2 separate regions of the Homo sapiens genome follow, and region 2 is linked to region 1. The links come from fine-mapping of genetic effects on gene expression. Tissue or cell type: whole blood. Region 1 holds a variant in brackets; the other region holds the start of a gene. All regions are shown on one strand. Distances are between the middles of the regions.

What was found. PIP is the estimated chance that this variant, and not a neighbour inherited with it, causes the effect. A credible set is the group of variants that fine-mapping cannot tell apart.
Region 2: ENTPD2 starts here. The variant in region 1 is the best candidate, but not a certain one, in a credible set for the expression of ENTPD2 in whole blood (INTERVAL, PIP 0.67).

The regions. Positions count from the first base shown.
Region 1 is chr9:137,088,037-137,095,961 of GRCh38, reverse strand. MAN1B1 (mannosidase alpha class 1B member 1) reads right to left here. Exons shown (of 13, transcript NM_016219.5): 2 at 7,779-7,887; 3 at 6,957-7,093. LOC124902338 (small nucleolar RNA SNORD62) reads right to left here and starts at 1,617; the gene lies at 1,532-1,617. The variant G/A (reference allele first, on the strand shown) is at 3,064.
Region 2 is chr9:137,051,271-137,056,270 of GRCh38, reverse strand. It overlaps ENTPD2 (ectonucleoside triphosphate diphosphohydrolase 2), which reads left to right and starts at 2,210. Exons shown (of 9, transcript NM_203468.3): 1 at 2,210-2,390; 2 at 3,923-4,040; 3 at 4,611-4,761; 4 at 4,901-5,000. The coding sequence starts at 2,274. It overlaps LOC105376327 (a long non-coding RNA gene), which reads right to left and starts at 3,926. Exons shown (of 2, transcript XR_930455.2): 1 at 3,396-3,926; 2 at 2,896-3,261. RefSeq lists silencers at 1,975-2,054, 2,155-2,224.

The DNA.
Region 1 (7,925 bases):
AATAACAAAGGGCTGCAGTAAACACCAGCTCCAGCAACACCTCTGGGTCCCCAGGCCTCCCGCACAGTCATCTGCAAAGTGAGGCAGGCACCCACATCCTCACTACAAAGCACAAAGCTTCCGATGACATATGGAGCTGGGTTCCCCTTGCCAGGCGCCCCCTGCTGTGTGATGCGGGCCTTCTAGCCAGCCCCCACCACCCTGTTCCCTGTTTCCACACCTGCAGGCACAGAGCCCCGTCCTCTGCTCCCTTCCCCACGTGAACAGGAGCGTGGGAAAGCTGCAGACCGTGTCACGGACTGAGGCTTAGGTCCTCCTACGTGAGTCTAGAGGCAAATCCATTCTCTCCTATGGCCTCAGTTTTCTGTGGTATTACCAAACCTTAATTTTTATTATTATTATTACTATAGAGACAGGGTCTCCTTATGTTGCCCAGGCTGGTCTTAAACTCCTGGCCTCACGAATTCCTCCTGCCTTGGCTTCCCAAAGTGCTGGGATGACAGGTTGCAGCCAACATGCCCGGCACAAGCCATAATTTTGTACTTCTTTACTGATGGATATTTAGATTGCTCCACTTTTTTTTTTTTTAAAAAAGGAAAGAATGCTTACTTATGGCTGGGCACGGTGGCTCACGTCTGTAATCCCAGCACTTTGGGAGGCAGGTGGATCACCTGAGGTCAGGAGTTCAAGACCAACCTGGGCAACATGGTGAAACACCATCTCTACTAAAATTACGAACAATTAGCCAGGCGTGGTGGCGCACGCCTGTAATCCCAGTCAGAGTCTTGTTTTGTCACCCAGGCCGGAGTGCAATGGTGCAATCTTGGCTCACTGCAACCTCCACCTCCTGGGTTCAAACGATTCTCCTGCCTCAGCCTCCCAAGTAGCTGGGATTACAGGCGCGTGTCACCACACCTGGCTAATTTTTGTATCTTTAGTAGAAATGGGGTTTTACCATGTTTGCCAGGCTGGTCTCGAACTCCTGACCTCAGGTGATCTACCCACCTCAGCCTCCCAAAGTGCTGGGATTACAGGCATGAGCCACCATGCCCAGCCTGTTTTTTTTGTTTGTTTGTTTTTTGAGACAGAGTTTTACTCTTGTTGCCCAGGCAGGAGTGCAGTGGCGTGATCTTGGCTCACTGCAACCTCTGCCTCCTGGGTTCAAGTGATTCTCCTGCCTCAGACTCCTGAGTAGCTGGGATTACAGGCGCCCGCCACCACTCCAGGTTAATTTTTTGTATTGTTAGTAGAGACAGGATTTCACCATGTTGGCCAGGCTGGTTTTGAACTCCTGGTCTCAAGCAATCCACCCGTCTCAGCCTCCCAAAGCGCTGGGATTACAGGCATGAGCCACTATGCCTGGCCCCAGCCTGTTTTTTTTTTTAATAGAGATGGGGTCTCACTATGTTGCTCAGGCTGGTCTCGAACTCCTGCATTCAAGCAATCTGCCTGCCTCGGCCTCTCAAAGTGCTGGGATGACAGATGTGAGCCACTAGTTCCACTGTGTTTCTCTAGTCTCTTCTCCACCAGGTCATGCAATCACTGTCCTCTTCATCTCCCTGCTATTGAGTCCACAGTGGAAGGTCGGAACAAACTATTAGAATTATGTCACTAAGATCACCTAGTCTTAAAAATCACCGTTACGAGGGTCAGGTGCAGTGGCTCACATCTGTAATCCTAGCACTTTGGGAGGCCGAGGCAGGAGGATCACCTGAGCCCAGGAGTTCCAGACCAGCCTGGGTAACAAAGTGAGACCCCACCTCTACAAAAAATCAAAAAGTTAGCCGGGCGTGGTGGCACATCCCTGTAATCCCAGCTACTTGGGAGGCTGAGGCAGGAGAATCACTTGAACCCGAGACGTGGAGGTTGCAGTGAGTGGAGATTGTGCCACTGCACTCCAGCCTGGGCAACAGAGTGAGACTCTGTCTCAAAAAAAAAAAAAATCACCATGGGTTCAATGATCACAGTTTTATGATCTTGTAGGGAAGTTCATCTGAGTTTTACTCCCAAATTTTCTTTCCATATGAATTTTAAAATCATCTTTAAAAACAGAGGTTGGAATTTTGATAGGGAGTCAATGGATTTACAGATGAATTTAGGGAGAACTTAAATCTTTTCTCTTTTTTTTGAGACAGAGTCTTGCTCTGTCGCCCAGGCTGGAGTGCAGTGGCGCGATCTCGGCTCACTGCAACCTCCGCCTCCCAGGTTCACGCCATTCTCCTGCCTCAGCCTCCCGAGTAGCTGGGACTATAGGTGCCTGCCACCACGCCCGGCTAATTTTGTTTTTGTATTTTTAGTAGAGACGGGGTTTCACTGTGTTAGCCAGGATGGTCTCAATCTCCTGACCTTGTGATCCACCCGCTTCAGCCTCCCAAAGTGTTGGGATTACAGGCGTGAGCCACTGCTTAAATCTTCACAGCAGAAGAATAAAATGTCTACTTATTTAGGTCTTTTCAAATACCTTGAGTGTTGTACTTTTATTTATACTGACTTTATATATTTTAGTATCAGGATTACTCCTACGGACTTGGTGGCATTCTTTTCTTGTGATTGTGATGGAGATCACTTTTCTTTTCTTTTTCGAGACTGAGTCTCACTATCACCCAGGCTGGAATGCAGTGGTGCGAACTCCGCTTGCTGCAGCCTCCACCTCCCAGTTCAGGCCTCAGCCTGCTGAGTAGCTGGGATTACAGGTGCGCACCACCACGCCTGGCTAATTTGTGTATTTTTAGTAGAGATGGGGTTTCACCATGTTGGCCAGGCTGGTCTCAAACTCCTGACCTCAAACCTCAAGTGATCCGCCTGCCTCGGCCTCCCAAAGTGCTGGGACTACAGGTGTGAGCCACTGCAACCTCCTGAGATCTCTTTTCAATAACATTTTCTAATTGATTACTGCTACTATATAGCAAAGTTCTCTAAAACTAATTTCTAAGCCGGATGAAGTCATAAGAAGCATACTTGGTAAAGGATGAAATATTCTAACTCACAACAGTCATACTAATAATAAAGGGAATACCAATAATAAAGGAAAATATAAAAGTCCTAAGACTCATCAAAGGACAC[G/A]GACAGCTTCCGGGATGGGAGCACATAGGGCCGTTCATCACCTCTCCCCTCCTGTAAGTGTCCCTGCTTCTAGGCAAGACACACAAGCATCCACGAAAAGCAGGCGCCAGTTTCTGACTGTTGCATTGGAAACATTGCCGACACGAGAATGCCCAGTGCTGCCATGGCACCACTGACTGCTACTCTCAGCACCGTAGCAGGGGAAGCAAATTCGGGAATAGTTTGTCATGATACACGTCATAGGACATCAAAATCTTCACAACCTTTAACTCTTAATAGTTTACGTACAACGGATGTAATGGGGACATTTACAAATGAAGAAAGAATCAACAGATAAATGATTTAGAAAATGATGGTTTATCCAAGCAATGGAGAAGAGCTATAAAAATCTGTATGAAAGGGAATATTCTCATGTGCATAAAAAAAGAAACAGGGACCAATCCAGCCCCTAACCCTCAATTACGTACACACGTGTGTATCCAAATACCAATCCAGCCCCTAACCCTCAATGATGTATACATGTGTTTATCCAAATAAAATTATTATTATTATTTTTTGAGACAGGGTCTCCCTGTCATCCAGGCTGGATCATAGCTCACTGTAGCCTCAACCTCCCTGGCTTAAGCGATCCTCCCACCTCAGCCTCCCAGGTAGCTGGGACTATAGGCATGTCGTGCCTGGCTAATTTTTTTTTTTTTTGGTAGAGATGGTGGTCTCACCGTGTTACCCAGACTGGGCGTAAGCAATCTGCCTGCCTTGGCCTCTGAAAGTGCTGGGATTACAGGTGTGAGCCACCATACCCAGCCACATAAATTGAAAGACATATACCAAGTGTTTCAAGAGTTGGACTGGGAACAGGGGTAATGTGTGGCTGTGTATTCCCCTTTATACCTTCTCAATGTTCCCATTTTCTCTCCTAAGCCCCTATAACATTTGAAATCAGACAGGTGTGGTGTCTTATGCCTGTGATCCCAGCATTTCAGGAGACTGAGGCAGGAGGATCACTTCAGCTCAGGAGTTGGAGACCAGTCTGGGCAACATAGTGAGACCTCATCTCTATTAAATAATTTTAAGGCCGGGCGTGGTGGCTCACGCCTGTAATCCCAGCACTTTGGGAGGCTGAGGCGGGCAGATCACGAGGTCAGGTGATCAAGACCATCCTGGCTAACACGGTGAAACCCCGTCTCTACTAAAAATACAAAAAATTAGCCGGGCGTGGTGGCGGGCACCTGTAGTCCTAGCTACTCAGGAGGCCAAGGCAGGAGAATGGCATGAACCCGGGAGGTGGAGCTTGCAGTGACCTGAGATTGCGCTACTGCACTGCAGCCTGGGAAACAGAGGAAGACTCTGTCTCAAAAAAAAAAAAAAAAAAAAAAATATAAAACAAAAAAATTTGAACTCAACCAAAGTAAAACGTTAACAGAAAGGGATCTGGCCTAAACACAGCCTCATCCCTAACCAGGTCTAGACAAGTGCCAGGGTCTGAACAGGAGAGGCAGTGCAAGTGATCCCTGGAGGGCAGGATGTCTCCAAGTCAATGCTTGAGAAAGACAGAAATATTCACCATCCACCACCCCAGCTGCTCCTGGACACTAGGTGCTGGCTTATGGGTCACTTGTGAGTGGTGGAAACACATCTTTCAATGGAAAAAATACCACAGTCTGCTCTCAGGCAGTTACGATACTCCATATGCAAAGGAGACGAAGGACCAAAGAAGGAAAGGAAGCACCTGTCGGCTTTCCAGTCAGGAAAATTCAATTTGTAGACAAAGACCTTGGTCAAAGGCAGAAATCCTCACACCGAAGAGTGTGGAGCAGTGGCCCCATGGCCAATCAAGAGCAGGACTCTCCCATCAGGCACGGCACCTTCTAGGGGCCAATTCCCACCCTACACCCTCTGCCCGGCTAGACCACCCTTGGAGAAGCTGCTCAGCGACAGGAATGCTGCCTTTGAAAGGAGAATGTGGGTTTGCTTCCTTCTGCTTTTTGGTACTGTCCATCCCCTCTCTATTGAGCTTATAGAAATTTTAAAAGGACACATTTTCTTGTTAAAGAAATCAAAGGGCCGGGCATGGTGGCTCATGTCTGTAATCCCAGCACTTTGGGGGGCTGAGGTGGGCAGATCAAGAGGTCAGGAGTTCGAGACCAGCCTGACCAACATAGTGAAACACGTCTCTATTAAAAATACAAACGTTAGCTGTGCGTGGTGTCGGGCGCCTGTAATCCCAGCTACTCGGGAAGCTGAGGCAGGAGAATCACTTGAACCCGGGAGGCGGAGGTTGCAGTGAGCTGAGATCACACCACTGCACTCCAGCCTGGGCGACAGAGTGAGATTCCGCCTCGAAAAAAAAAAAAATCAAAACACCCCCACGGCAGTCTGAGGGTGGCCCAAGCTCATGGGGGCCAATGCCCCAATGCCCCTCTTGCTGAGATCCTTAGCCAGTGGGCAGCAGCCTGCCTCCAGCTCCCCAGCCCAGGAGCTGTTCCTCGGCAGGTTACCACTCCCAAGGCCACTGTTAGAAAGCGCTGTCTGTCCCTGTCACAGCCCTGCAGGGAAGTCCACCTGGCGCTGAGGACTCTGGCCACAGGTGAAGCTCCCAAGGCACTCCCACACCTGCTAGACACAATCACAGATGTACCAACAACAGTAACTAACACCCTAAGGGCCTTCTAAGGGTTCCGAGCAGCCACACCAGAGTCAGCACCACCCTGGTGTTCTCAACGGTGTCGGGGATTTGGCTGTTCTTCCTGAACCAAACCTTCACTGACAGGACGTTTTCCTGGTTCTCCAGCTGCCTCCTGACCCATCCCCAGTCTCCACTCCCCCTGCCCTCCTCCCTGACCCCAATCTTCTCAGCCTGGTGGTGCCCAGGACTAGGCCTGGCCCCTTCTTCCAACGTTTCCAGAGGACACAAACCACCTATACCTAGGGACTCCTAAAACCTGTCTCCCCTGGCAGACTCTGATCCTGGCACCACCTGCCCACCAAGGTCTCCATGGCGCCTCCCAGACATCTCACAGTGGGCAGATCCAAAACGGAGCTCCTCAGTGTCCCCAAGCCAGAGCCTGCACAGCCTTTGCTGGCCCCTCCACCCGGGGACTCACCCTCCTTCTCCCAAGGCCCACTCCTGCGGAGCACTCCTCCCCCCACTCAGCTTTTCCCACGGCCAGGCAGCTCTCCTGGCCTCCTGCCCTCCACTGTGTCTCCACCCAGCCAGAGCAGTTTCACAGTAAACATCTCAGACCTCCAGTCCACGCCAAAATCTTCCCGCATACATCAACTGGACCCTCCATGCTGCCTCCAGGACCTGCAGGACCACAGCTGGACTGAGCCAACCCCTGCTCCCTCTCCCAGCCCTGGGAATTTCACCTTCCCGCATATGCCAAGGTCCTCCTTGCCTCAGGCAGTTTCACTCAGGCTCAAGTCTGCCTCTCCCCACCTTGCCCGGTGCCAGCAGCTTCTCAGCCCTCAGATCTTGCCCTCAGTGCCACGGCCTCCCCTGAACCCTCAGGACCAGCCACTGTTCTTCACCAGCGCCCTGCTCTTTTCCACATAGGATGTACACCATGTGCCATCTGCCTCTGCCCATCTGTGCCTGGCTTCTCACCAGCCTCTCCTACCAGCTGTGGCCTCTTGAGAGGAAACAGGTCTGTCTTATTCAACACTGCACAGTCAGAAGTAAAACCGGAACTGGCCATGGCTGGTCTTCAAAAAGAATGAAGCAAAGACTACGCCTCTCTTTCCCCAAGTATTATCCGACCAGTCCAAAACGAGAGAGAGGTAAACACGTGGTAATAAATGGTAAAGGAAAATAATTCTTCTCAATCTTCAGTGGTTTGAAATGCCTCTGGATTGAACCCCAGTTATAACCCCACACCATTTGCTCAAAGTACCTGTGACGAAATCTCAGGTAAGTTCTCAGGGTCGGTGTCCGCCTTCTGAGGAGCTGGTAAGACGGGTGGATTTGCTGGTTTTAACCCAGCAATTTCTGGCCTCATCTTCTGCTCTTCCTCTAGCCTGAAAGCCAGAGCTGAATAACAGAAGCTATTTTATTTCAAATATGCCACAAGGCCTACAAGAGATTTAAACTGCTTTATAAAAACACTTGGCAGGCACTATCCATTACAAATCAACATTATGATACCTGATAGTCACTGAAATGAATTCAACAATGTCCCAAGGGAATGAAATCTTTTTCAAAACACTTGGCAGTTTGTGTCCTTGTCCATAACACAGAACCCCACATCTTTTGCCTTCCTATTTTCCATTCAGGGACGTTCAGCATGTGGCAGGTGGGCAGGAGCCCTTTAGCTTTGCTCCAAAGAGAAGCATCTTAGACCAAGTGAGAAGAGATTCTCCACATCCTCACCAGAACTCTGCCTGGTCTTTTCCAAACACACGCTAATGAGTGCTACGAAATTTGTGTGGTTATTTAGGCTGAGTGTTCAAGCCCACCAGCTGACTTACTCTATAAGGGAGGCTGGACATATCAGTACTTACACCAGAGACCTAGAAAGTAGTCAGACAGCATCAAATTAACATCTGTGTTCTAGCCAGGTGGTTACATACAGCTCTACCTTTCTCTTTATCTTGATTTCTTGCCAATTCGTTGCCATATATGCCTCCTGGAGCTGTTTAAGGTAGAATGCAAGATTGCTTCTGCCCAATCAACCCTCAACACAGATATCGTTTTCAAGTACACGTGTTTCTGATACCTTTCCAATGGTCAGCCAAGTTGATGTAGAAGAGGAGTCCACAGAAAAGCAGAAAGGCAAGGAGGAAGAGAATCATATTCCGCTGCAATCTCGACAGTTGCTTCCATTTCTAAGGGAGGTACAGAGAATGACATTTCTTACTGAATA
Region 2 (5,000 bases), 38 kb after region 1:
ACAGACGTGAGCCACACAGCACAAGCTTCTGATGTGGAGACTGAGGCAGGGCAGCCAAGATGTCAGCAGGCCTCAGGAAAGCCCCCCTCCCTGGGAGGTCTGAGCCCTGCGTGGGCGGGAGGCTCCGAGTTCCCTCCCCCAGGGGTTCTCCCCTAACCTCTCTGCATCCGCATGTTCCCAGCTCAGCCGGGGTCATGTGCAGCACATCTGGAGGCCCCATCCCCGAGAGGGTCCTGGAAGCCGAGAGCTGCCCCACCCAGAGGCCCCTCCACCCCTTCAGCTCCTGCCAGCTTCCCTCTGACGCTCTCCCAAGTCTGCCTTCCAGGGTCCCTGAGTCCATGCCAGGAAGGGGCGTTCCCCCGCCCTCACTCCGTCTCAAAGAGAGCTCAGCCTCAGCCTTTGTCCTGGCCGCTCTGGGCTCCCTGCCTCTCCCTCCGCAGGCGAAGCTGGGCACTCGGCCATGAGCCTGTCTCCCCGGGGCAGAGTCCAGCTCCCCTCTCCCTCCCCATCCTCTCAGGCCTGGCAGACCTCCCACTCCCTGGCTTGAGCTTTTTGTCCATGAAAAGAGTCCAGAACACCAGGAAGCCCCGCTGGGCCTGGAGGGAAGCGGGGTACCGCAGGCCAGTGGGGGTCGCAGCACCCTGCCTCTGGGCGGCCTTTGTTCCTTCCTTTTCAGGCATGATGTGCACTGTGCGTGCCTCTCCCTCCTCTGGGCGGTCAGGGGTGGAAGAAAGGCCTGGGGTGTGTGGGGGGAAACTGGGGCCTGGGGCCTGGAGCTTAGCACCGGCAACACCCAGAGATTGCCTGCTGGAGCCCCGCCAGGCTGGGCTGTGAGGCTGAGGCAGCAGAGAGGCTTCCCAGGGTTCCCACCCCTCCCTTTGGGGTCCTGAGCTGGAAGAAAGATGCCTTTACTGGGCCTGTGGCGCCAGACCCTCAGCCCAGGCAGCAATCCCAGCACAATTGTCACTGCCCGTTCCAGAAGGCCGGGCATGGTCTGGACCCTGCCCCATGGGGCTGCCCTTTGGGCCCCAGCAGCCTGCACTCCCTGGTGGCCTTGCCTCGTGGCTCCCTGACGCTGTGTGGCTGGAATTATTGGGACAAGAATTCCCACTTTGCAGCAGGCGCAAAGGGGGTGGCCCCTGGCCGGGCTGGGATGCGGGGCCTGTGAGGCTGCAGAGCCGAAAGGCCAGCCATGTCGTGGGACGGAGGAGCAGGGCTTGCGTCTGGGGCCAGCTGCGCTTCGCCTGCCCCAGCCGTCCCCAGAAGCCTGTTGCTGACCCGCACCCCAAGCTTGGCCTGGGGACCCTCTTCCTTGCCTTTCAGGCCACGTAGAGGCCCCACCTGTTTCCGTCCTGGGGAAGCCTCCTCTGGCCTCCGCAGCCCAAGCCTCTGTTCCCCTCAGGCCGAGGGGGCAGCAGGCGCGGCTGAGGCCCTGGGCTGGGAGGTATGGACCTTTGGCCCGGTCTGTGCTGCTTCTCCTGTTTCTCGGCTCGGTGTGACCTGGGCCGTCCCTCCCCTTCCCCGTTCCTGCGTCCTCACCTTCACCTCAGTACAGGGCCCAGGTGAGGTGGATCTGACTGGGCCTCAAGGGTAGTTCTGGCCTGGGTCAGCTGCGTGTCTCTGGAGCTGACCTGCGCTGGCTCAGCGCCGCAGGCTGGCGGATCCTTGCTGGCCGGGAGGGCATCCCGCAGGCCAGCCTGGTCCTCACCAGCCCTGGGAGTTGGCGCTCAGGGCCCTGCTCCACAAACAGGTGCTGACCCTCGGCTTCCTCCTGAGTCCCCAGCCCGGGCCCCGCGTGGCTCCGCAGCCGACAGTGCCTCATTCCTGCAAGCGAGTCTGGCCTCCTTTCCCGGGCCCGGGAAAAGCGCGGCTCTCCAGCACAGGACCCTCCGAGCCAGCCTCGCCCGCCCACCCCCACGCCAGGTCTCCTGCCTCCACGGCCGGGGGATCCCCTTGCTGAGTGGGCGGGAAGGGGAAGGTGGGCCATAGCCGCGGGGCGCCCGGGCTCAGACCCGGGAGCCGGGGGGCGGTGCTGGTGACTCAGCCGCGCCCGCGTCTCTCACCTGCGCGGGCCGGACGGCGGAAGCTTGGGAGCGGAGGCGAAACCTGTCCGCCCGTGGGCGTGGCCGGTGATGGGCGGGCCCGCCCGGCCTCCCGCCCCTCGTCCCGCCCCGGGGCCCCTACCCCGCGGTCCCGCGGCCCCGCCCGCCTCCGCCTCCGGCTCCCCGCACTCTCCGGGTCCACGCATCGTCCTCCCGCGCGCCCGCCCGCCCATGGCCGGGAAGGTGCGGTCACTGCTGCCGCCGCTGCTGCTGGCCGCCGCGGGCCTCGCCGGCCTCCTACTGCTGTGCGTCCCCACCCGCGACGTCCGGGAGCCGCCCGCCCTCAAGGTGCGCGCCCGGGCACCCAGCGCACGTCTGGGGAGCAGCGGGCCGGGCTTGGAGCCGGGGAGGGGGTGCGGCTGGGAACCTGAGCAGGATCAGCCCGGGACCCCCACCGTGCTCTGCTCCTGGCGGGCTGGGTGGGGTCCCGGGTTCCGCGCTCTGCGCTCCCCGACCGGGTACGCGGAGGGGGCGGGGGGCGGTGGCGCTTCCAGGGCGACGCGGTGCTGAAGGAACAAGTCCCGGGAGTTCCGCGCCCGCCGCCGAGTCCGTCAACGCAGCCCAGGGGCTGTGTCCCCGCTCCCGGGATAGCCCAGCGATGCCCCCTGGGTGCTGCCGGACGCCCGCCCCCAGGCCTGTGCGGGCCCCCAGGGGCACTCCGGGCCACTTCTGCCCTGTGCCGCCGCCCCGGAGGGTGCGGTTAGAGCCACATCGACTGGGTATTCAGCCCAGATGGGGATCCACAAGCCCCAGGACCCAGGGCCCCCGCCAGGACACGAGAGTGGCCCAGAAAGACAGGAGGGCTTGACCGGAGCAGCCCTGGCCGGTCCTCAAAAGGTTGGAGCAGGCTAGCCTGGATCTCCACTCCAGCAGGCCCAGGGACCTCCTGGTCGGCCCCTTTAACCCTTTATTGGGCTTGTAGGGGGGTGGGGTGGAGAGCCAAGTCCCCCAGCCTGATGGGGAGTCAGAAGCAGGGAGCTCTGCGGCCCTGCAGGACGGCCATGTGGCGGTGCACGCGCTGACCTGTTGATGCTCTGGGCTCTGGGGAAGCCTTGGTCGGGATGGACTGGTGCGGCCCTCTCGGAGGCTGGAATTGGCGCCCGGGCCTGGGAGGCTGGTCCCCAGCTTTCCAGGTGGATCCAGGATGCTGGGGCAGGAGCTGGAAAAGGGCATTTACAAGCTCGTGCCACTCAGGTCTGCAGGAAGGCCCACCCAGCACCCCCAACAAGGCAGGGCCAGCCTCTCTCTCTGGCCCTGGCTTGGAGGCCTAGGGAGAGTGTCTTTAGAGCTGACCTGGCTCTGAGGCCCACGGCCAGCCTCGGTGGACCTTCTTCACCTGGGGCCCTGCCTCCTGCATCCTCAGGTTGGGCTGCCGTCAGAGGAGCTGGAAGGAGACAGAGGAGGAAGGAAGAGGGGAGGAAGGAAGAGGGACTCTAGGGAGCTCCTCTTGCAGAGGAGCTTCCTCTCCCTGAGCCTGGGAAACTTGTGCCCCAGGGAAAAGTCCCTGGGGACCCTCTGTCCCTCTGTCCCTGACTCAGTCCCTCAGTCTGCCCTTGCCAGGAAGGCTGCTGCCCAGACCCTGGCATGCTGGCTTCAGGTAGTCAGGAGGGAAGAGTCACCTCCCCACCACCTCCCTGTTCTCCTTCCAACCACGGCCTCAGAGGAGGCCCTGGCCTCCTCTGAGCTTCAGCATGAGGCTTGGCACATGACTGGGTGGGGGGGGGAGCGGTGGCAAACTGGAGGAACCCAACTTCACGTTTGGTGTCAGGGTGTCAGGGCCCCCGGACACCCCAGGCTGACTCCCTCCCCCTCCCCCGCAGTATGGCATCGTCCTGGACGCTGGTTCTTCACACACGTCCATGTTTATCTACAAGTGGCCGGCAGACAAGGAGAACGACACAGGCATTGTGGGCCAGCACAGCTCCTGTGATGTTCCAGGTGAGGCCCAGCCCAGCCCAGCCAGGACGCCCACTCACTGCAGGGTCTCTGGGACCCTCTCCAGCCTTAGCCAGTGCAGGTCCTTCTGCTTAGTGTTGGGTGGGGCTCACTCCAGGCAGAAGCCCTGGAAAGAGAGAGGCTGGTGCCCCTGCGCCTGAGTGGGGCCAGGAGTCGTTTGCATTCTAGAAAGGAAGCCTAGGCAGCAGGTGGGGAGGTTTGAGCCTCGCCGGGCCCAGTATTGGCTTCTGTGCCCCAGATGGAGCAGGAGGAGGTCTGGGGGCCTGGCGGACACACCCAGGCAGGCCTCAGGAGGCCAACCTGGGTTGACCATGCCCAGGGCTTTGTCCTAGCACCTGCACCCACACCCTCTCAGCAGGCAGCAGCCTTGGTCTCCGGGTGGCACCTGGGCCCCTTTGTCTCCAACCTGGGCGTTTCTGGGGGCTTAAGCAGGGAAGGTGTGCCACCTGGTCTGGGAGCCCACGGCCCCCACCCCCACCCTCACTCTCCTGGCCTACGGCCCACCTAGGGGCTGCCCGTGAGGCATAGGCTCATCTCTCTGCCTCCCTCTAGGTGGGGGCATCTCCAGCTATGCAGACAACCCTTCTGGGGCCAGCCAGAGTCTTGTTGGATGCCTCGAACAGGCGCTTCAGGATGTGCCCAAAGAGAGACACGCGGGCACACCCCTCTACCTGGGAGCCACAGCGGGTATGCGCCTGCTCAAGTGAGTGTGCCTGTGCCCTGGCCCTGTCCCCATGATGGCCTTTGGCTGTGACCCCTTGCAGGGCGGACTCCGAGCACCCCTACAGCAGGCTCACAGCCACCTGGGGAGAAGGCCTCTTGGAGTTCTCTGTGTTTTGCAGCCTGACCAATCCAGAGGCCTCGACCAGTGTGCTCATGGCAGTGACTCACACACTGACCCAGTACCCCTTTGACTTCCGGGGTGCACGCATCCTCTCGGGC